Linked DNA regions of Homo sapiens: all the other regions are linked to region 1. The links come from fine-mapping of genetic effects on gene expression. A gene starts in region 1. Each other region holds a variant in brackets. All regions are shown on one strand. Distances are between the middles of the regions.

Region 1 (5,156 bases):
TGTTCCCTTACAAAAACTGAAATTAAGAATATTTTCCTGATTCATAATTACACAGACCTAACTTAAAAAATTAATATTGGAGAGGTAGATTATGAACAGCTCTCATTATGAAAATGATTTATATAGTGTTTTGGGAAGAAACCTTAAGTTGTGATAACACAGGGTTAGGAATATGACCCTTTATATTTAATTTTCCTCTAGGAATATTAATAAGATCTCTAATAATAGTTCTCATTTTAGAGTTTAGAAGTCGGATTATTATAGGGCAAACCAGCCTCAACTATTCTAGATTTAAGAGGTAAAACTGAGAACATTAAGGAATCTCAGTCGTTCAGATAATGCCAAATAAACACCTAAAGGATATAATGCCCTGAGTCCATAGCTCTATTTGTCTCTGAAACTCCATCTCCTTTGAAAAGAATCTAGACATATTTCATTCTGGGGCTTTGACCTGTGGTTTTCTTTAATTGAAGTCTCATAGTCATTAATTGAATCATGTGATGATTTTTTTTTTCTCTTCTCTAACCTTCATCTTGTGTTCAAACTAAGATTTCATTTATGAGCAGGAGGTAATAATGGGTTCTGCCAACACGTGAAGCTATCCTTAGCAAAGAGAAACAACTCCGTTTAATAATGATGTTAAATAATTATTGCTAAGCTATGTGTTGCGACTACAACATGACTTTGAAATGACTACGGTATGATTAGAATAAGAATATGATATAACTGTGGTGCTTATGAAATGAACTGGAAAGTGGCTGTGCTGCTATGTTTATTGTAAATGTATCACAATGATGGTTCATTTATTTAAAAACAGTGCAGTGCATAAAATAGGTGACAATTGGAACAATGTACTAGCTTTAATTGTAGATTTTGTGAATGGCAAAATGATCGTTTACTGTGGTAAGATAAAAGAATCATCCTTTCATTCACTGACATTATTCTGTGAGGCAATATTTTTCTTTTCACTTTGGGATACTTGTAAGTCCTTTCTATTCTTGAATTTTATATATTCTAATCATACAAAATATTACTATAATAAAAGTTGCTTTGCTATTTAAAAAATATCAGTCTATTATCTGCAAGGAAAGTATTTTATATTTTACATATAAGGGATTAATGGATTTTACAGTGGGCTTTTAGACACTGCAGTTGAACTGTGAATATTAACTCAGAAAAGTTTGAATTAAAAAGAGCTTACAATTTCATGTTGGAAAATTGTGATGTCAAATTAGTTGGTTAAATCATGTCATTATTTATTCAATATATGGCTTAGTAAGCTTGATTGGTGTTTTTTTTTTTTTTTACTTTTCATTTAAACGTCTAAAAACAAATGTTACTTAAAAAAGAAAAAAAGCAAACAAAACTATTGTACTCAAAAACAAGGGGTAATCTCCAACACGCCCTCAGTCAAGAGCTTAAGTATGTCAAGAGCCTTTAATGCCTAGGCAGCCCATTATAGAATGGGGAACACACAGGTTTAAAATAAATGCCCTTTATTCTTCCTGTAAGTTAGACCAAGTTATTCAATCATGTACTAAGACCTTCTCTGACAACCTTTATAGGTCATTCAGAAAATAAATTTTTGTTCCAAGTGAACTGTTCCTATGTTAATGCTTCAAACTTTACTCAGGTATCAGGCGTTAAGTACAAGCCATTACACAAACCTTTGTGGTTTACTGACTTTGAAAGATCAATCAAATATATTACTAGATAGTGCTTTGGGGGTCAGTATTTGAGAAATAAAGCTGTATTTTTTGGGGAGTCATTCCATCCAGTTCCCGTATGAAAACGAGAAACTTGTGAGGATTTAGTACAGAGCTGGAGTCGGAGAAATGAAATGCACGGGAAAAGACGAAAATCACAGGAAAGAAAGTTGGAATCAGCAGAAAGTGCCTAGGGGAAAGGAAGTGTTCCACAGCTTGGGAAACAGCTGCCTGGGACTCCTTCCAGCCCCTCGGAAGCAAAGTTCGCAGTGAGGTGGGCTGGAAGCGGGTTTTGCAGCAGCCGCGAGTCCGGGCTCAGGTTTCCAGGCGCGGCTGGAGCAGAAGTGCAGGGACCGCCACGATCCACCGCCGCGGCCGGTCCCGCTCCGCTAGAGGAGACTTCGCACGCGCAGCCGACTGGCCCGGGCTGACCGAGGGGACCCAGACGCTGCCACTTTCTCTTTCCAAGGCAGTTTCCGTGGCTCTGCATGTAGGAAGTGCTCCGATTAATTTTCTTTCCGGTCTCCGCAGAGATTCCAAATTCTGCGGTCCCCACCTTTCGCTGTACTCCCTCTCCGCCCTTCTTTCCAATGTCCCTGCCAGCAAAAGCCTCTATTTGCAGCACCGGGCATGTTGTCCGTTTAACGCGCTCCGGGGATCTGCTGGCTCGTGCTCCCAACCCAGGGGTGGCTATACGTCTCGCGCCTCTGTTCCTGGGTAGACTCCCCCATCTGTGCATTTTGGCCCCTTCACTTAGCAAAGAGATGTGCGAAGTGTGCGCCTGGAGACGAGCCGCCTCGGTGACCCCCATCCGCCCGCAGCGGTGGCCCTGGTTCCCCGGATCCGCGCCCGCGCCCTGCGGGTCTCCCGCGCCGCCCTTGCCCGCCGGACCACCCGGGCTCAGAGGGTCGCTCGCTTTCAGCGCCTGCGAGCGCCGCTTCCGCCCGGGCCTGGGGAGCGCCAGCGCGTCCCTCCCACGCCGGACCCTGCAGAGCATGCTCAGTGCACCTCATGGAACCCGGCTCTCCTGGGGCCAGGATCAGATTTCCGGGTTTTCGCTGCTGCCGAGGGGGCGCGGAGGAGGGGAGGCTGGGAGACAGTCAGCGCCTTGTTCCGCGCTCCCTCCCTCGCGCCGGGCTGCGGCCGCCCGCGCCGCAAGATGCAGGCCAATCAGAGCCCGGGGGCGGGGCCTGGGCAGTCACGCCCTCCCTCTGGGCTTATTGAGAGTTATATCAAGAAATTCAGTTCAGAGAGAGGAGAGGGAGAAGGAGAGAGGGGCAGAGGGGAAGGGAGAGAGGGAGAGCACGCGAGACGGAAAGGAGCGCCTCAGAGTCTCTGAAGCACGCAAGAGATAACCGATTAGGAATTTTTCGGGCAACTGTCACCCGGATAGCTGTCAGAGAATCATCATCACCGCAACTCTGACGTTTCCTACAAGAAGTTAGAGACTTAAGCAGTATTGGCATCGGATGGAAATGGTATGCATGCTGCTGTGGAAAATATCCCTGAGCTGAAGAAGTGCAACTATGTGTTGTGTGTGCTAAATGCCCAGAAGAACCCAGACCCAGTGGGTAAGAGAGACGAAATGTGGAGAGAATGACTAACGACAAATCCGTGAATTTGTTCTCTGGAGTTGCTAATTTGCCAGCCCGAAGCAACACATTTTACAAGGAGGAAACATTTTGCTGCTTCTGATTTCTCCCCAAACTGGTGCTACCAGATGCATGGCTTTCTATGTGTTGGAACAAATCATTCCTAACTGCAGCATACTGGGAAAGGGGAAAGGTTGAGGCAACTAACGTAAGTGTAAAGTTTCGCATGCACAATTGTAAATTCTGTGTTTAGATGTGTCCTCAGTGTAGGCGAAAGATGCTTGTAATTGGGTAGACGGTTGGGGCAGAGCTCACCTACTCGGCTGTATCTGCATCCCTACCTGCATCACTCTGCCGGAACTAATCGCGGGCATCAGCTACTGTGCAGCCTAATGCAGATAAGATTAGAGCCTGAGAACTGACCAGTCCTACTCAAGTAGGTAGCTGCCTGGAGCCTTGCACCCATTTAAACTGCAGTTATCTAAGCAGAAGCCTTTTTACCTGCATGATTGGGTTGCAGTATTTATGTGTGGCAAATGTTACTAATATTCTAACCAGAGATCAGGATTAAGAAATTGCATTTTTTTTCTCTTTTATGTTCAGTAGAAAATATTGTGATGTTACATGGGAATGTTAGCTGCGTTTCACTTATATCTCGGCACTCTCTTCCACCTCTAGGAAAATGAATCCTATATTATTATACATTTTTAAAAGTTTTAATGTGTTTATGAATCCTAATGAGGATAATTTGTCAATATGGAGAAAGGAGAGCAAGCTGTGGGCAAGAAATCTGAAGTCTTGTTGTTGTGCTTTTAGGCAATGAGGATGTGTAGAGGCCGGTGACTATTGCTTCTGATGCCGCTGCAGCGGCATGTCCGGATGCTCGTTTCCCAGTAAGATTGTATTAGAAGGCAGTTGAAGAACTGGGAGGAAAGAAAAAGATAGCCTTTTTAGAAAAGATAGGTGACTCAGTGGGGCAGAGAAGAAAACACATTTGACATGTGACAAAGCAATTAGCAGGAACCGTAGCTAAATACTTAGTGTTTTTCACTTGCACCTGAAAAGACTGAGGGAGGTAGGTTAGAGGCTAGGAGGAGGGTGAGACAGGGGGAGGGGAAGAGGAGAACAAGAATGCATGTTTTGAATTAAACAGTATTCTGAAAAACAACGTGCGTGAATATAGGTAAAAATAGCAGCTGTCCTTAATTCAAAAGTAGAAAATTTTATTTTCTCCCGGCAAATGCAACCAGCAGGAGATATTTAGTGTTTTTCTCCACAGAGTAAACTTGCAAACAGTGGCAGAGCAAACTGCCATGTTTACTAATGTTCAGGGGAAAATGTGTGGTGATATTTTGTGACGGTGTGTTTTTATTTACTGAAGAATAATATTGTCTATACAATTGTGTTGACAGCGGCTGTCTCCAAATAAGTGATGAGATATAATGCATCCTCCAGTCCATGCACGCTTCCTCTTGCAATTTGTGCATCATTCCTCAGTGGAAACCTTTAAACCCTAAAATCCAGGAAAAGAAAATAAATACATTATCATGGACCTGAGGGATTTTTACCTGTTGGCTGCTCTGATTGCCTGTTTAAGGCTGGATTCCGCAATAGCTCAAGAACTTATTTACACTATTAGAGAGGAATTGCCTGAAAATGTGCCCATAGGAAACATACCAAAGGATCTGAACATTTCTCACATCAATGCTGCCACAGGGACCAGCGCCAGCCTTGTCTACAGACTGGTTTCTAAAGCTGGGGATGCCCCTTTGGTGAAAGTTTCCAGCAGCACTGGGGAAATTTTCACAACCTCCAACAGAATAGACAGAGAAAAACTCTGTGCTGGCGCCTCATATGC
Region 2 (5,156 bases), 320 kb after region 1:
GTTGGAACAAAGGAGAAAGGAAGTGCTTTTGAGGGAGAAGAGAGGACTTTTCCTACCTTTGAGACATCAAGAAGGAAGACAAAAGGGTATCTCTAGGTGGAAAGATCTGGAATGGGAATTGTGAGGACAGAAGAGGACTTACATAGAGGAATTGATGAGCATTATCTGTAGGGTCAAGAGAGTATTGAAGGGTGTCAGTCAACTTGCAGTGGGGTTGAAGAAGCTCTGCTGCCCCTAGAAGAACTGAAAAGGTGAACTTTGCAAAATCCACTGGGTAGGAACATGTGTCAGGGTCCCGAAGTTGAACATAAGCTTATTTGTTTGTGCAATGGATAAATTCAAGTTTACCTAGTTAGTTAATATATTACTGTGACAAAGTTACTCCTTGTCATGAACTGCCAAGAGTTCAGTTGGAGGAAGAAAGCATGATGACTAAGCCAAATGCTCAGCGCACTGCAAGCTCCGCCTCCCAGGTTCACGCCATTCTCCTGCCTCAGCCTCCCTAGTAGCTGGGACTACAGGCGCCCGCCACCACGCCCGGCTAATTTTTTGTATTTTCAGTAGAGATGGGGTTTCACCATGTTAGCCAGGATGGTCTCCATCTCCTGACCTCGTGATCCGCCTGCCTGGGCCTCCCAAAGTGCTGGGATTACAGGCGTGAGCCACTGTGCCTGGCCTCTAAATGGATTTTCAACATGTGTTTTTTTAAAAGGATATGTTTTTTTTTTTGTAATTCTGTGAAAAAGGATGCTGGCATTTTGATAGGGATTGCACTGAATCCATAGATTGCTTTGGGCGGTATAGTCATTTTAACAACATTAATCCTTCCAATCTATGAACATGGGATATTTTTCCATTTGTGCAATCTATGATTTTTTTTAATCAGGGTTTTGTAGTTTTTCTTGTAAAGATCTTTCAACTCCTTGGTAAAATATATTCATAAGTCTTTTTTGTAGTTATTGTAAGTGGGATTAACTTCTTGTTTTGGTGCTTGACTAATATTTATTGTTGTGTAGAAATGCTACTGATTTTTGTGCATTGATTTATGTCTCAAAGTTTTAAAGAAAAAAATTTAAAGAAGAGACTCAAAAAAGCAATTAAAAAAAAACAGACTCTGTATACTATAGATACAGGTAACATTTCCTTCATATCATTTTAGGGTCTGCCTATTTTTCTTATTTCACATAAGCAATCCCTGTTTTTAAATTAATGTGTATTATAGCCATCTACAATTCTATGATATGATTGCATTTATATAACATTTGGTTTTAAAATTTATCATACGACATTTTCATTTTAAATCAAAATATGTGTCACTGCACCTGAACACTGATTTGTTCAATAAAGTTTGATGAGCATTTTAGCTCCATTTTCTAGTTATGATTAAAGATAACAAAAATAAGCAAAAAAAGAAGGTACATAGAAAACATTAAAGAAAAGGCTGTGAGTATAGGCTCAAGGTTTCCTTATTTGGGCCAGAATAAATTTCAGGATACTAAATGATCAGAACAAATTTTCAGAAATAATAAGAATCTATACTGTTGGTCACTTAAAATATAAATTTTATTAGTTTCTAGATGTAAGTATAAAGATATGTGCTTTGATGAAATAATGATTGGGGGTGTTCTAAGAGATCTTTTCTTATCTTATGAATAGAAGATTGTTCCTGTGTCTGAGAAAATATTTTGGAAACAGAACCTGTTCAATATGGGTGTAATTGCTTAAACAGACTCCACTGAAGAAAACACTTTCTGAGGAAGTACTCAGTTTTATCCTCTCTAGTCCTTTCAGTTTTGACAACAACACGAACAGTTAAATGATTCCAGAGAGAGAGCAGGAGAAGAAAGAAAGCCATGAGTGTATAGCATCCTTGAAGGCCAGTACATAAATGAAACAAGAAGAGGTAGTACTTAGTTGTGTTGCATTAGATAAGAACTGAGAACTGCCATTTGCATTAGTAACGTGAAAACCATAGGTGATGGTAGCAGGGCCATTTCAGTGGAATGGGCGTGCTTGAAACCTAATACATGTGGATCTCTAAAGAAATGCATAGAGAGAAGTTGAA[G/T]ATACCAAGTTTAGACAATTATTTAAAGTAGATTCATTTCTGCAAACATAAATTTCTTTGGAATTATTAAACAAATGTTCTGTTTTAGAATTCTTCATGAAAAGGATCCTTAGTTTTTTAAAATGGGTAGGAATAACGTTTTCAGTGGGAGTTTTTAAATAAATGGAATTGTTATTTAATGAAACCTATAGCACAAAAGTACAAAACTATTGCCTCTATAATGACTGCAAAACTTCTATGAAAGTGCTATTGATTTTTAGTAAACAATCTTGATTTTGTAAGAAGGTAGGAGTAGTAATAGAATAATAAATAATACTAAGCATTGCTACTGCATTACCATTGAGTTGAAAATGTAAAGAACCCCCTATTTAGCAAAGAAAACAGCTGTGTTTTTCATAAAAAGATCTTCCATAAAACTTTTGTTGTTCTTGCTACTGTTGATTATTTTTCTCTTAATATGGCTAGAAGTGCTTTTTTGAAAATTTATTTCAAAAATGAAAGAGTAAAAATACCTGATTATGTGAAAACTTTGAGCAGATATGTCTATAGGTAGTGAATGATAATTTTCCCAGGAACTACAATGGATGTTTTGGAGTGGCATGATTTATCCACATATTGCAATACAGACTTTCAATCATAGGTGATGAAAAATAGCAAACTGGTCTTAAAGTATAAAACAAATGTACTTTCAGTGATTTTCATTGAATATGATTGTTGTTATTGAGCTTTAGACTTCTCAAGTTTGATTTACATATGTACCCCCCAATATAAATCTGATTTAGCAAATGCATCTTACCCATAATTCAATACGCAGTTATTTATATTAAATTGGGCAAACAGTAAAATTTTTTGGTGGGATGAACCTTGAGAGTTTTTTATTTTATTTTTTTCTTTTTGAGGCAGAATCTCGTTCTGTCGCCCAGGCTGGAGTGCAGTGGTGCAGTCTCAGCTCACTGCAACCTCCAGCTCTCGAGCTCAAGCTATTCTCGTGCCTCAGACTCCCAAGTAGCTGGGATTACAGGCATGCACCACCACATCCAGCTAATTTTTATATTTTCAGTAGACGGGGTTTTGCCATGTTGACCAGGCTGGTCTCAAACTCCTGACCACAGGTGATCCGCCCACCTCGGCCTCCCAAAGTGCTGGGATTACAGGCGTGAGCCACTGCGCCCAGCCGAGACTTTTAAAATAAATCTTTTTTTAGAAAATGCTGCAACTCTCCCGGAAGTAGAAATTTGTTAGGGAGGATTCATAGTGATTAAATTTTTTCCTGTAAGAATTTTTTTTCTTAAAAGTTTGGGTATTTATAATAGTTAATCTCAAAATATTGTTTACAGTGTTACTTTTTTCTTTTATTTTGCTCTGAGTTATATATTAATTTGCAGAAGAAATTTACCTCAAAAGACTCAATTTTAAAAAGTAAGGAAAGAACAGTAAGTTAGAAATTTTCCTTTCATGCCATTCACTGTTCCAAAAACAGGAGCTGCTCCAGAATGAAACACAGGAGAGGCTTGGGGGTGAGATCTTTTAGGGATGGAAGGACTTAACTGGGCATCACAATGATATTCCAAATGCGCTCATTTTGTTATGTTGCATATTTTCTTGGAAAAGTTGGAAGAAAAAGAATGACCTTTAAAGCTCACTCTTGGCACTGTTGGCCCTTATATTAAGTCCAATTCTATAACTTCTCACTATATGTTGTGCTATTGAATTAATGCACTGATAGTTTCTGTCTGTTCTGAAATCAATCCTCACATTCTTCATGTTTGAACTATTATCAAATTACTCATGGCTCATGAGAATTCATGTTTTCTCACCTTTGCATATGCAGTTCCTTCTGTCTCAAATGTGTGCTAACCATGATTCCCTCATCAGTCCACCTCTCGAGACTCTCTATTCATGTATCAAATCTGGGAGTCTATGCATGCTCTTCTCTGTCCCTTAGCAGTCTGCATACATTTTCAGGTGGCATGTTCACTCATCATGGTGGTTATTTATTTTCATGTATTGTTTCAGGGCTAGAGTGAGAGTATTACAGATATTAAATGCCATATCTTGATGATCCAGTACAATTCTGACACATAACATGCACTCAGTAAAAGTCTGATTATCAAACAAACAAACAGAATAAAATGAGTGAATGAATGAGTTATAGATGAACCCATTAAGGGAGATATGGTACAGTAGAAATTGCCCAAAATAGAGTGAACACTTGTCCTGCTTTTACAGGGCAAATCCTTCAGCAAATGGCACTGAATATACCTGAACCTGTGTCTTCCTAATCTGTTATAGGATGGATTATGTTTTCTACCAGTCTACAGAGGTTCCTTGTAGATAATACATAAGTTCTTGTATTTAAAGCATAAAGTATTATACAAATATAGGATTTTTTTTTCAGGTTCAGACACTTTTATGATATATCCATGGGGGAAAAAAACAATATGATGGGTTAAATTTTAAAAAGGAAGAAAAAATTCTATGGAGCAAGATATCAGATTGAAATCGGAGTGAGGCCAAAATTTACTCTAGCTTCCTGAGGGCTAGACAAGGAAGTTTTAACCTTAACCCAAGGATTCTAAACTCTGGCTACACATTAGAATTGTCTGAATATTTTAAAAATATTTATGTCTGAGCTTCAATTTAACTGATGTGAGGTGGGACTCAGTCATTGACATTTTTAAAAATCTCCCCAGGTGATTCTAATATACAGTCAGGGTGAGACTCACTGCTGGGCCAGAGAAATTTAGGAAATGTTTCTTAGGAGAAAAACTATATGATACATGAAACCTTTTAAAAAGATTAATCAGCATGAATAGATATGTGGAGAGGCTAGGGATAGGAATTGAATAATTAAAATGTCTATGGACATCACAGATGAAAATAACTGTTTTAAGGTCTATGCTTTTTTTTTTCTTGAATGCCAAAAAAGCTGCTGTGAAGCCTTTGTTGCTAACAGTGAATTTGTTCAGACAAAAAACTTAGGAACATTCAAATAATTAACATTACAAGGGAACATTTTACAAATTACACATGAAAGTTACTTAGAAACAGAGGTTAAAATGGCAATCACCATTTGTTGAATGACGCATGA
Region 3 (5,156 bases), 26 kb before region 1:
TAACACCTAGACTCCAGAAAGTGATTATGTTATAACTAGAACTCTTGAAGTCATTTTTGGAGACTGAAGATAGGATTTATAATTATTTGCCTACTTTAAAATCTCCCATTTCATCTTTCTAAACAACATAGATTTACTGTCATCTCTCCTCTTCCTCTTCCCTTTCTTTTTTTCTTGTGTTCAACACTTGTAGAAGGGGAAAAAATACAACAAGATTGCAAAAGTGATTTATTTTCGCCATATAATAAGAAACCCAGTACTATGGCAGTGGCCTTAAGATGTCTTTGATGCTTCAGGCACCATCTACCTATGGGGCCTGCAATCTTTGAAATGTGACTTTTATCCTCAATTGCAACATGGCATCTGCACTCCTATGCATCACAAAGACATTCCACAAGATAAAAGTGGAAAGGGGAAGTAAAGGGAATGGCAGCTAAATCTGTCTCTTTTAATCCAAGAATACACAGCTCTCCTGGGTGCCTTGCCCAACATTGTTCTACTTACATCTTATTGGCCAGAAATGTGTCATTAGGCCACACCTAGATGGGCAGCAGCTGGGGAAATCAAGTGGTTAGCTGGGAACAACACTAAACCACACAGAACTGGGTTTCAGTTAGTAAAAATGAAAGGCAGAATGAGTAGTTAGGGACAGCCAGCACTGTACAGTATATATCTTCTTTCCTCGACATTCCCATCTCTATTTGTTTAATTTTATGTAGCAAGCTAAAATGACTGGAATATTTAATATTTAGTCCAAATTAGACAAATGGATATAATATTCAAGACAAAAAAAAATCATGGAATTTCATTAATGGTTTTAATTATTGTTACATACATACATACATACATTAATGGTTTTAATCATTGTTATATACATTTGGCAAATCTTTTAAATAAATTATATTGGTGTGCATGGCAGCATTCAGATTGTTATATTTATTTAGCTTTAAATTAGCATTCTGCTTCAATTTATTAAAAGAAAACTGGGATAACTTTTTCTAACTTCCCAGTGAAATATTTTGAATATTATTATATTCCTAACCCAAATGTCCTTATTGTATTTCCCTCAGGCATTTAGCCATTTTGTTACATCTTACAGCAGCAATAATTCTCTATTCCATAAAAAATGGAATTTTACAAGCAGGACAAACGGCTCCATAAATTAACAGGAATACCTGCCTAGCTGAAACAACACATTTCTTTCTTATTCATACTTTTGTGATGTATTTGTCTTGAAATTACACTCTCGTTTTTCTGAAATTTACAGCTTCTTTTTATGGGTTGAAAATCCAGTGAAAAATTGGTTGACACCTAGAATATCAAGAAGAAAGGAATTTATAAGAAAAATGCATATTTCAGATATGAATGTATTCTCAAAACATGTATCTCATCCTAAAATGTTCCTGAATGTATTTAGTAGAGTAAGATTTTTCTCCCAACACACTTGAATAATAGTATGTGTGTAAATTCCCACATAGTTGAGAATCTTTCATTGTGTTTTTAGATGAAATAACCTTATTGATAATATATTCCTTCTATTTAAGAGTGTGTCTACTAGTATTAATCCAGTTCTATACATGACTATTGATGAAGGAAACTAATTTGTAAAAATAATAGCATAGCAATAACAGCTTGTACTTTGCATTTCAGAGAACTTACATATTTTATACAAATTTTTTCTTACATGTTACAAAAGAGACCCTGTATCAGAACAAGTGAGCATTTTCATATTTTTATTTTTCAATTATGCAGTCATTGATGGAGTAAGGAATGGAGCCCAAATGCATTCCATAAGCCAGACACCTCAATAAGTCATGCAAAGACTGAAAATAACGTTTGTAGAAGTATGACTTTCTAACAATTCTTCTCCCCCTTATAAAAGTGCCTATTAAATATCAAGAAAAAGAATAAAAATCCTAACATTACTAAATTACTTCAAAACATATGTGGCTTAAGAATGTTGACTTCAAGATTATGAAATATTTCTTTTAGGATACTCAGAGAAAAATCTCTTGACAAAAGCCTGTATTAATTTATATTTTATAGATGTATAATTAATATCTCTAGACTTGTATAGTTTCTCTGCAAGTGCATCAGACTTCATTCATAAATATGCATTAAGCAACTACTATATGCTGGGATCCATACTTCTTGGAAAAAAGTTTCTCAGTTTATAAACTTTCATAAAGGTTTGTAGGAGGAAAAACTTAAAGCTAAAATTAGTTATGCATTTATCTTATATGACTCTTTAAAACTAAAACACTCAATATTT[T/C]ATTTTTATTTCTATTTCTATTCAGATTAAATACAGAGCAAGGATTGCAGAGAACACTTAGAAAGCCATTCCAGTATTGGAGAATTATGAGTTCTCTACATTCGACAAGTATTACCAAAAGTCTACTGGCAACATCTGGACAATTAAGCAGATACAAGAATAAAAAAGACATATGCTTTGTCCTCAAGCACTTAACATTTAGCAGGCAAAAACATAACTATAGTCCAAATGGGAGGTGAAATTTGTTTCTTACAGGTGCTCAGTGGAAAAGAGAGAAGGAATGTTATCTTTGGGATATCCAAACAGTGTTTTCCATATTTAATCTTCATGACAGACTTGCAAAAGTAGACATTCTTTTTTCCATTTTATTGCTAAATAAATGTGAAGAAATTAAATTTGCAGTCTCTGTCAGCCTGTCTCAGAGATCTTGTGAATCACAGTAATCCCACAACCCCTCTACCCCTCCATGACCTGCATTAATCGTAAAGTATTTGCAAGAAATAGACACTTGGTGGGTTACGTCACTTCAATTTTGGAGCTATCTGTTGCTGTAACACAAGCTAGGATATCCTCAATCAAAGTCTTTCTGAGTAAAAGAGCAATAAACGTAAATGTTTTAGTGAGTATAACAAGAATGTAAAATGGTGACAAATTTATTTTCGCTAGAGTATACCACCTGTGTAGGGTGGTAATGGGAGATTAGATTGTAAAGGGCTGGTTGGGACTGTTACGGAAGTCCTTTAATGCCAGGTAGAAAGCAATTATTCTCAATTTAGTAGGTGTAATTCAGTATTTAAATAGCAGGCTCATTCTGATCACATGAAGATTAATCCCCAGCGAGTAAAGCATAGAATAAAAATGATTTCTAATCTAAAGAATCGATTATACTACATGTTAAAGTTGTTCTCTGTATAAAATAGATATAAACAATCCTTCTCTAAAATGGTTTTGAGATAAGCTAAAAACAAGCATTTTGGAATAATAACAGTTAAATATGTTAGCTATATTTAGTGGAAAACCAATAGAGGGCATTGACATTGTTAATATAATTTTTCTACTAAGTCAGACATAGCAGCTATTTAACTAACAGATACTTGAAACCTTTTTTTGGTGGAGATTTAATTGTTTTCCCTTAAAGTATCGCTAGGGTTATTGTCATTGTTCAAAAAATGCCTTCTCATAGTTTGAATCTCATCAGCAGTGACTGGTTACTATCTGTAGTGTAATATATATTAAAGGTTGGCTATCGCTGAACGTAGAGCCACATATAGGGGTGGATACTGGGCTGGGAGAAACTGATACTACTGCAAGCAATGTGGAGCCTGGAAGTAAAAACAGACAGAAATGGTGTCCAGTAGTTTGTAGCAATCACAAATATCAGTGCAGCCAAAGCGAGTGTCCAAACCACAGTAGAAAATATGGATGAGGGCATTTTGAAACTCACAGAATGATAGTGCGCACTCAGGAAGTCTGAAGAAAGGTAGAAGATCCCTTTACCACACCTCCCCTCCCCGTCTCCATGTGCTAGCATTATTAACAGAATGATAATCTGTGGGTGTTGCAAGAAAAAGAGAAAATAAAGTTTCTTCCAGGTCTATGGAGATGCTTTAAAAGTGACCAGAAGACGACCGTGGAAAGAAGACAGTAGCAGAGCTAGTGAAAGTAGAATGCGATGTAATGTCTAACATGCATTTCCCTCAGCCCTAGCATCTCTCCTGCACAAATAATTGAAATATACATACTGTATCTTTGCAGATTTGAACTTCCCGATATGCTGTACACTATTTGAAGACCTCTGTAATAATACATGATCAAGAAGCATTATTGTTGCCAGGCGTGGTGATTCACAACTATAATCCTGATAGTTTGGGAGGCTAAGGTGGATCACTTGAGTCCAGAAGTTCAAGACCAGCCTGGGCAACACAGCGAGACCTCATCTCTACAAAATATATATAATATATTAGATGGGCTTTGTGGTGCACACCTGTCATCTCAGCTACTTGGGAAGCTAAGGCAGGAGGATCACTTGAGCTCAGGAGTTCAAGGTCACAGTAAGCTATGATTGCACCATTTTACTCCAGCCTGGGTGACAGAGAGAGACCCTGTCTCAACAAACAAACGAACAAACAAACAAAAACATTGTTGTTATTGTTGTAATAGTCTAAATTACAAAGGGTATCCATATTTTTTTGGTACATCTGATTTAGTTTGAAATTAGGAAGATGAGCCATGAAATTGATTTCTTTTTTTGTTTGTTTGTTTCATTTGTACATTTGACTAAATTTGATCCTAATCAAATCAAAAGATATTAATTGATTTTGGAATCAAAATACATTAATCCATTTTCCCAGAATAGCAGATCTTTATTCAAATGCGCTTTGGAATTGCTTTATAATCAACTCCTCTCCTGTAGCTTCATAACATAACCAGGATATTAAAGTTTCTAAAATGTCCCACAGTAACAAAACATCTTTAACTTGATCTGAGTTAAATAAATGTTTATCCTCAGGGGAAGATTTTCTTCATTGTTTCTTTGAAAACTACCTAGTAACATCCCTTTAATAGTAATTTGAGAAGTGCTAGACCAGAATGCTTTAGCTAGTGTTTCTCAGACTTGGCACTATGGACACATTGGGCCTGTGTGTGTTTTATACTGCAGCATAACGAATCAAATTTTGTGACTTTAAACAACACCTGTTTCTTAGCTCATAGCTCAAGATGGTGTGGCCAGGATCTTTGCTCTGGCTTGGACTGCATTCTCCTCTAGTGGTTCAAGGTGCTCTCTGAGCCTATTCCTGTTATGGGCAGAATTCAGTTTTTTGTTGTTGTGAAATTGAAGTCTCTGTTTCCTTGCTGGATGTCAGCCAATGACTTCTCTTGGCTC
Region 4 (5,156 bases), 900 kb before region 1:
CATATCTTCTTCTCGCCAGCCTCTGTGCAAACTGCTTTATAAGCATCATCTCATTTATCTCTCAAAATGACCCTAAGGGATAGGTTCTATTTAATATCCATCTTAAGATAAATTTAAACTAGAGTAGGAGTAATTTGACCATGATCACAAATAATAAGTAGTAGAGCTATGATTTGAATAAATGCCAGTCTGACTAAAAGCTTTCTTTTTCAATTATGTGACTTTTTAAAAAACATCAAATCACCTCTCCCAAGTCACAGAATTAAAAATGTGGCTTTCTAACAGAAGATAACTATTTAAGTCTGTCACTATGTTGTCTTAAACATTTAACTTATGCCATATCACACAAGAATGCAAATCTTCATTTGAATTATTTTGTATTAAGAGAATAATAGTTCCTCCATCATATAAATTTATGTTATAGTATGTCATTGGTATTTTATAACCTCATAATGCAGTAGCCACGATCTCTGTGTCCTTGAAGAAGAAAACGAAAGAAGAATTACATTTCTTAGTAAGCAGTCTAACGTAAAGGAGTGGTGACACACCACCAATGGGGAAAAATTGTCTATTACGCTTACTAAAAGTTTTTCTTCTTAAGTTATAAAACACTTAAGATATCAGCCAACTGTGCAATGAGTATGAATTCTCACTTAATCCACCAGCTCCCCATTTTAAACAGTCTTCTATCTACCTCCTTTGCAGATTCTCTTTTGTGGTCTCTCTGACACATATTTTCACTTTAGCTGAATCTCTCCTGTGACTTTTTTTTTCCTCCTGCACAAACTAACTTTATCTCAACTGTCCTTTAATTAAATCAATAACTGATGTTGTACTTCCCGCTAAAAATATTAACCAACCCCGATGGGCAGCTGAGTATTTGGGGAAAAGAAAGCTTCACCAAGCACAACTGTGGAGCCAAACACATTTTCTTCTTTTTGCTCTTTTACTCCTGTCCTCTTCACTCTCCCTTTTTGTTCATTATTTTTCTTTTTCCCTAATCACTCAGTTAAAAAAAAAAAAAAAGTTTATGGTGAATAATCAGCATCTGAGCATGGCTTTTCAGTTACTGAAAGATCCCGCTGGAAGCCATAGCATATAATCAAACATGCTGCTGCTGACCAGGAGGAGTGACTGCATAATAGCTGCAAGGCTATGGCTCTTGGTCTTTAATTCTTTGGATAAATGCTGCTACAAGGAAGAAAAGTGAGGATACAAACCTCTCTAAACAGGATGCTTTTCTTTTGAAATCTGCAGGGCCCCTATGTCTCCCAGGTTTGAAATTCCTTCTCTAAGCAGGAGTAATGCTTTTTTAAAAAGGTATCTTCTTGTATATTTTAATGGGCCTGATATTGCAGCTCCAAATATTTTTAAAAAAGGAATCTTTGGCAGTTCTTATGGATGCTAAACTGAATAAATGCAGTTTCTACAGTACAAAGTATACAATTATATTTCCATTCTGAGAAACATATGTTACTAATAAAAACTCTTTCACAAAATCAGTGATTTTTTTTTTAAAAAAAGGACTCATTTTCTAATAACAAGAAAAATAACCTGATATGTCAAAAATGGTTTCCATTTGTTGTATTGCAGAACAATTGCTTTTATTTCAGTTTATGACAGAAAATAAAGTATTTCAGTTCTATTTTTGCATTCCATGATGCAATTTTTCATACATAATTTTTATAAGCAATGTATAAGTTCTTAAATTATTTTTTAGAGAAATATTGTACAATAATTTGTTAATCGTGGGAAGGGAAAATTAAACCATCATCACCCATTTACGCTATAATTCGAGCATGAAATGGCAGCATAGTGTTCGGAAAATACTGTAGGCTTGGAACTAGAAATACCTGAAATAAAACTTTACCTTCATTATTTACTAACTGTATCATCCTAGATAAGCTCCTCAGAACTCAGTTTTCTTACTTCTAAATTAGGATAAGAATACAAATATTTTAAAGTATTTGGATGATAATGATTAC[A/G]GATATGTATATATATATGTATATATATATAGCATGACAGATAGCACTTATTCAATACATGATTCCCATTTGTTGACCTTATTATTACATCAAATCATAGTTGCATCCAAGTATACCTTGCCCAGTTGTTTTTAATCATGTCATGATATATATTGTGATTTCATGACAGAGTTCTCTCAGAATATTTTTAAACCAGATTTTTTTGGTAAGATACTGAAATCAATAAATCACCAAGAAACCCCCAGTCTAAGAATAAAGAGAAGCCACTCCGATAAAAGCAATTAAGAATCTGACAAACAAGAGTATGGATCCCCAAAGAACAGTCATCCTGGAAGTTTAGGTCCTAAGGACTTTGTCCCAAATGTATCACTGCTTTGAGCAGATGAACACTGTAAGTACTGGTACAAGCACAACAGAGAAGTTGGCAATCAATCTAAAGTGTTTTGATTTCAAGGGAAATTACTATGGAATGTTTCTGTGGATAAGGATTAAGTTTTAGTAGGCAAAAACTCAGCACATTTCTCTAAAATGTTTCCATAAAGAAAATCCTAAATATCTAATCTTGGGGTTCTCTCCTATACACAATAGGTATAATCCAATATGTAGCCTTTGCGATTGCAGAAAATATTAGATAGAACCTAGATATATACAAAAAAATTATCAGACATTGGATTCAAGTCTCCAAATCACCCATTTTCTTAGCAGTCCTCGATGGGCTGATGTCTTGGTTTACCAGGTGAGTTCTTATTCTCTCCTTTCTCTTATTTTCAAATCATTTATTTATTCATACTGTAATATAAATGGAAAAAGCCCTAATAGACATTTTCTTTGTATTTCAACAGATGAACAAATGGGGACATACTAGTAATTTTTAAGGCATTATTCATTGTGTGTTTATGATTGTGAGTCTGTGTGGGTGAGGGAGTGGATATATTTAAGAACATTAGTGTAGCTTTAAGAATATTAGTGTAGCTCTTCTATCACTCTTGAAACCTTACTATTTCTATTTAAAATTAAACAGCATTAATCATCTTTCATTTTGCATGAATTGCTTCCCAGGATACTATCTTCCCTTAGGAGAATTACAATAAAAGTGAAAAAAAAAAAAAGAAAAAAAAGAAAAGAGGTCATGTAAATCAAGTAAAATACAAAACACAACCCAACAAAACAAAACAAAAAAATATCCAGGGCTCTGTGGCTCACGCCTGTAATCCCAGCACTTTGGGAGGCTGAGGCAGCTAGATCACCTGAGGTCAGCAGTTCAAGACCAGCCCAGCCAACACGGTGAAACCCTGTCTCTACTAAAAATACAAAAAGTTAGGCAGGCATGATGGCAGGAACCTATAATACCATTTACTCAGGAGATTGAGGCAGGAGAATTGCTTGAACCTGGGAGGCAGAGGTTGCAGTGAGCCAAGAACGCGCCATTGTACTCCAGCCTGCGCAACAAGAGTGAAACTCCTGTCAAAAAAAAAAAAAAAAAAGAAAAGAAAAGAAAAAAGAGAACGATCAGATAATTTTATGTGTTTGTGAAATGTCTACATGATGGAAGAAACATTTATCTCTCAAATTATTGGTATATTTGCTTTACTTTTCCACATTCTATTTTTATACATCTCAGTTGCAAACAAATTCATTTTTTAATGCTTCTTCATCAACATAAAGTATCTTCACTACTAAAATCATCATAATGCTGCCAAGAATAAGTACTTCTTATGAGGTTCCTCAGAATTGAATGACATAGTAGCAATCTGTTCCTGATTTGGTTTGGTCTATGTCCCTGCCCAAATCTACGTCGAATTGTAATCCCCAGTGTTGGTGGTGGGGCCTGGTAGGAGGTGATTCAATCATGGGGGCAGATTTCCCTCTGTGACAGTGAGTGAGTTCCCATGAACTCTGGTCATTTAAAAGTGTGTGGCACCTCCCCCACTCTTCCTCCTGCTCCTGCCACTTAAGATGCCTCACTCCCCCTTTGCCTTCCGCCATGATTAAAAGATCCATGAATCCTCCCCAGAAGCAGATGCCTCCATGCTTCCTGTACAGCCTACAGAACTGTGAGCCAATTAACCTTCTCTAATTTTTTTAAATAAATTACCCAGTCTCAGTTATTTCTTTATAGCTATGCGAGAGCTGACTAATACAACTCTATATCTCTTAATTAATGCTTTTTTCTAACAGTCGTCTGCACCTGACTTTTCCTAACACTCTGCTCAAACGTCATATCATTTGAAACCCATCATTATTTACTTTCTTGTTTCTTCCTTTCTCAACTGCTCATCACATCATGATATATAACACACTGAGCCATTTATTGATTTCTTATCATGTTCATGCTTTTTGCTTGGCAATCATCCCGCAGTTTCAAATGCACTCCAACTTAGGGAATTTATATCTTTAAGCAAGGACAAGTGGAAAAAAGAGCAAACCTCAAATATTTTATTTAACCCTATTAGCCCTTTTGGAGATTTTAAAATAAATTACCAAATAATTTCAACTTATTATCTGTCTATCCTTTCCTCCAAATAGCTCCTTAGAAACTATGACAGCATTTTAGACAACGTTTTTAATTTAACCCTAACAATAGCGTTGTAAAAATGTCCATCTTAGGAAGTAGCTAAAGCCCAAGATAGGTGAAATTTAAAAGAAAAATCTACGCAATGTAATAAAACTAGTCAGTATAATGCTGTGTTTCAAGAACATAATTTCTCATTTCATGTAAAGGACATTTTTACACTATTAGATTTTTAACATCTATTTATTAACATTTTCTTAAGTACATATACAAAGTTTCTGAAGCCAAAAACATTATCATTATTATTATTTATAGCAAATAATATCTACATGTTTCTTCTATGCCCCAATTTTTACCACTGGAGTAACACAATGAAAACCAGATGTCACTCTACATACACAGCATCTGTATTGTAGGTGAAGCACCACACACACAAAAAAAAAACTGGACATTTTTTCAGGAAATAGAGGCAGCTGTCCCCCATTCCCTTCAGAGAGAATCATTTTGAAAATGTAAATATTAGAATCCTGGGTCGTCAATAAGACTACTGTCTCCAACTTCACAGACCAGGCAATGTTTCCTGGTCCCAGATCACACCCTGCTTTGAAATTTAAACCCATACCTCTGAAGAAGTAAGTATATGTTTTCTATTATTTAAT

Direction of the effects. Alleles are on the strand shown, and positions count from the first base shown. SD is a standard deviation of normalised expression in the study named. Not every link is listed here.
In carriers of allele T in region 2, the expression in prefrontal cortex of the gene that starts at base 2,950 in region 1 tends to be higher than with G alone (small effect, 0.39 SD a copy in BrainSeq).

Evidence for each region. PIP is the estimated chance that this variant, and not a neighbour inherited with it, causes the effect.
Region 2: its variant is the best candidate, but not a certain one, in a credible set for the expression of PCDH9 in prefrontal cortex (BrainSeq, PIP 0.78).
Region 3: its variant is the best candidate, but not a certain one, in a credible set for the expression of PCDH9 in nasal epithelium (TOPMed, PIP 0.51).
Region 4: its variant is the best candidate, but not a certain one, in a credible set for the expression of PCDH9 in thyroid (GTEx, PIP 0.51).

Annotation. Positions count from the first base shown.
Region 1 is chr13:67,228,130-67,233,285 of GRCh38, reverse strand. It overlaps PCDH9 (protocadherin 9), which reads left to right and starts at 2,950. Exons shown (of 5, transcript NM_203487.3): 1 at 2,950-3,506; 2 at 4,711-5,156. The coding sequence starts at 4,846. RefSeq lists a silencer at 2,540-2,679.
Region 2 is chr13:66,905,009-66,910,164 of GRCh38, reverse strand. The region is part of intron 2 of PCDH9 (protocadherin 9); the gene reads left to right. The region is part of intron 4 of PCDH9-AS2 (PCDH9 antisense RNA 2); the gene reads right to left. Among named protein-coding and RNA genes, the nearest start is that of PCDH9-AS3, 70 kb to the left of the region's middle. The variant G/T (reference allele first, on the strand shown) is at 2,066.
Region 3 is chr13:67,254,018-67,259,173 of GRCh38, reverse strand. LOC105370246 (a long non-coding RNA gene) reads left to right here. Exons shown (of 3, transcript XR_002957498.1): 3 at 2,298-2,580. Among named protein-coding and RNA genes, the nearest start is that of PCDH9, 26 kb to the right of the region's middle. RefSeq lists an enhancer at 22-786. The variant T/C (reference allele first, on the strand shown) is at 2,273.
Region 4 is chr13:68,130,171-68,135,326 of GRCh38, reverse strand. No RefSeq gene overlaps it. Among named protein-coding and RNA genes, the nearest start is that of LINC02342, 750 kb to the left of the region's middle. The variant A/G (reference allele first, on the strand shown) is at 1,986.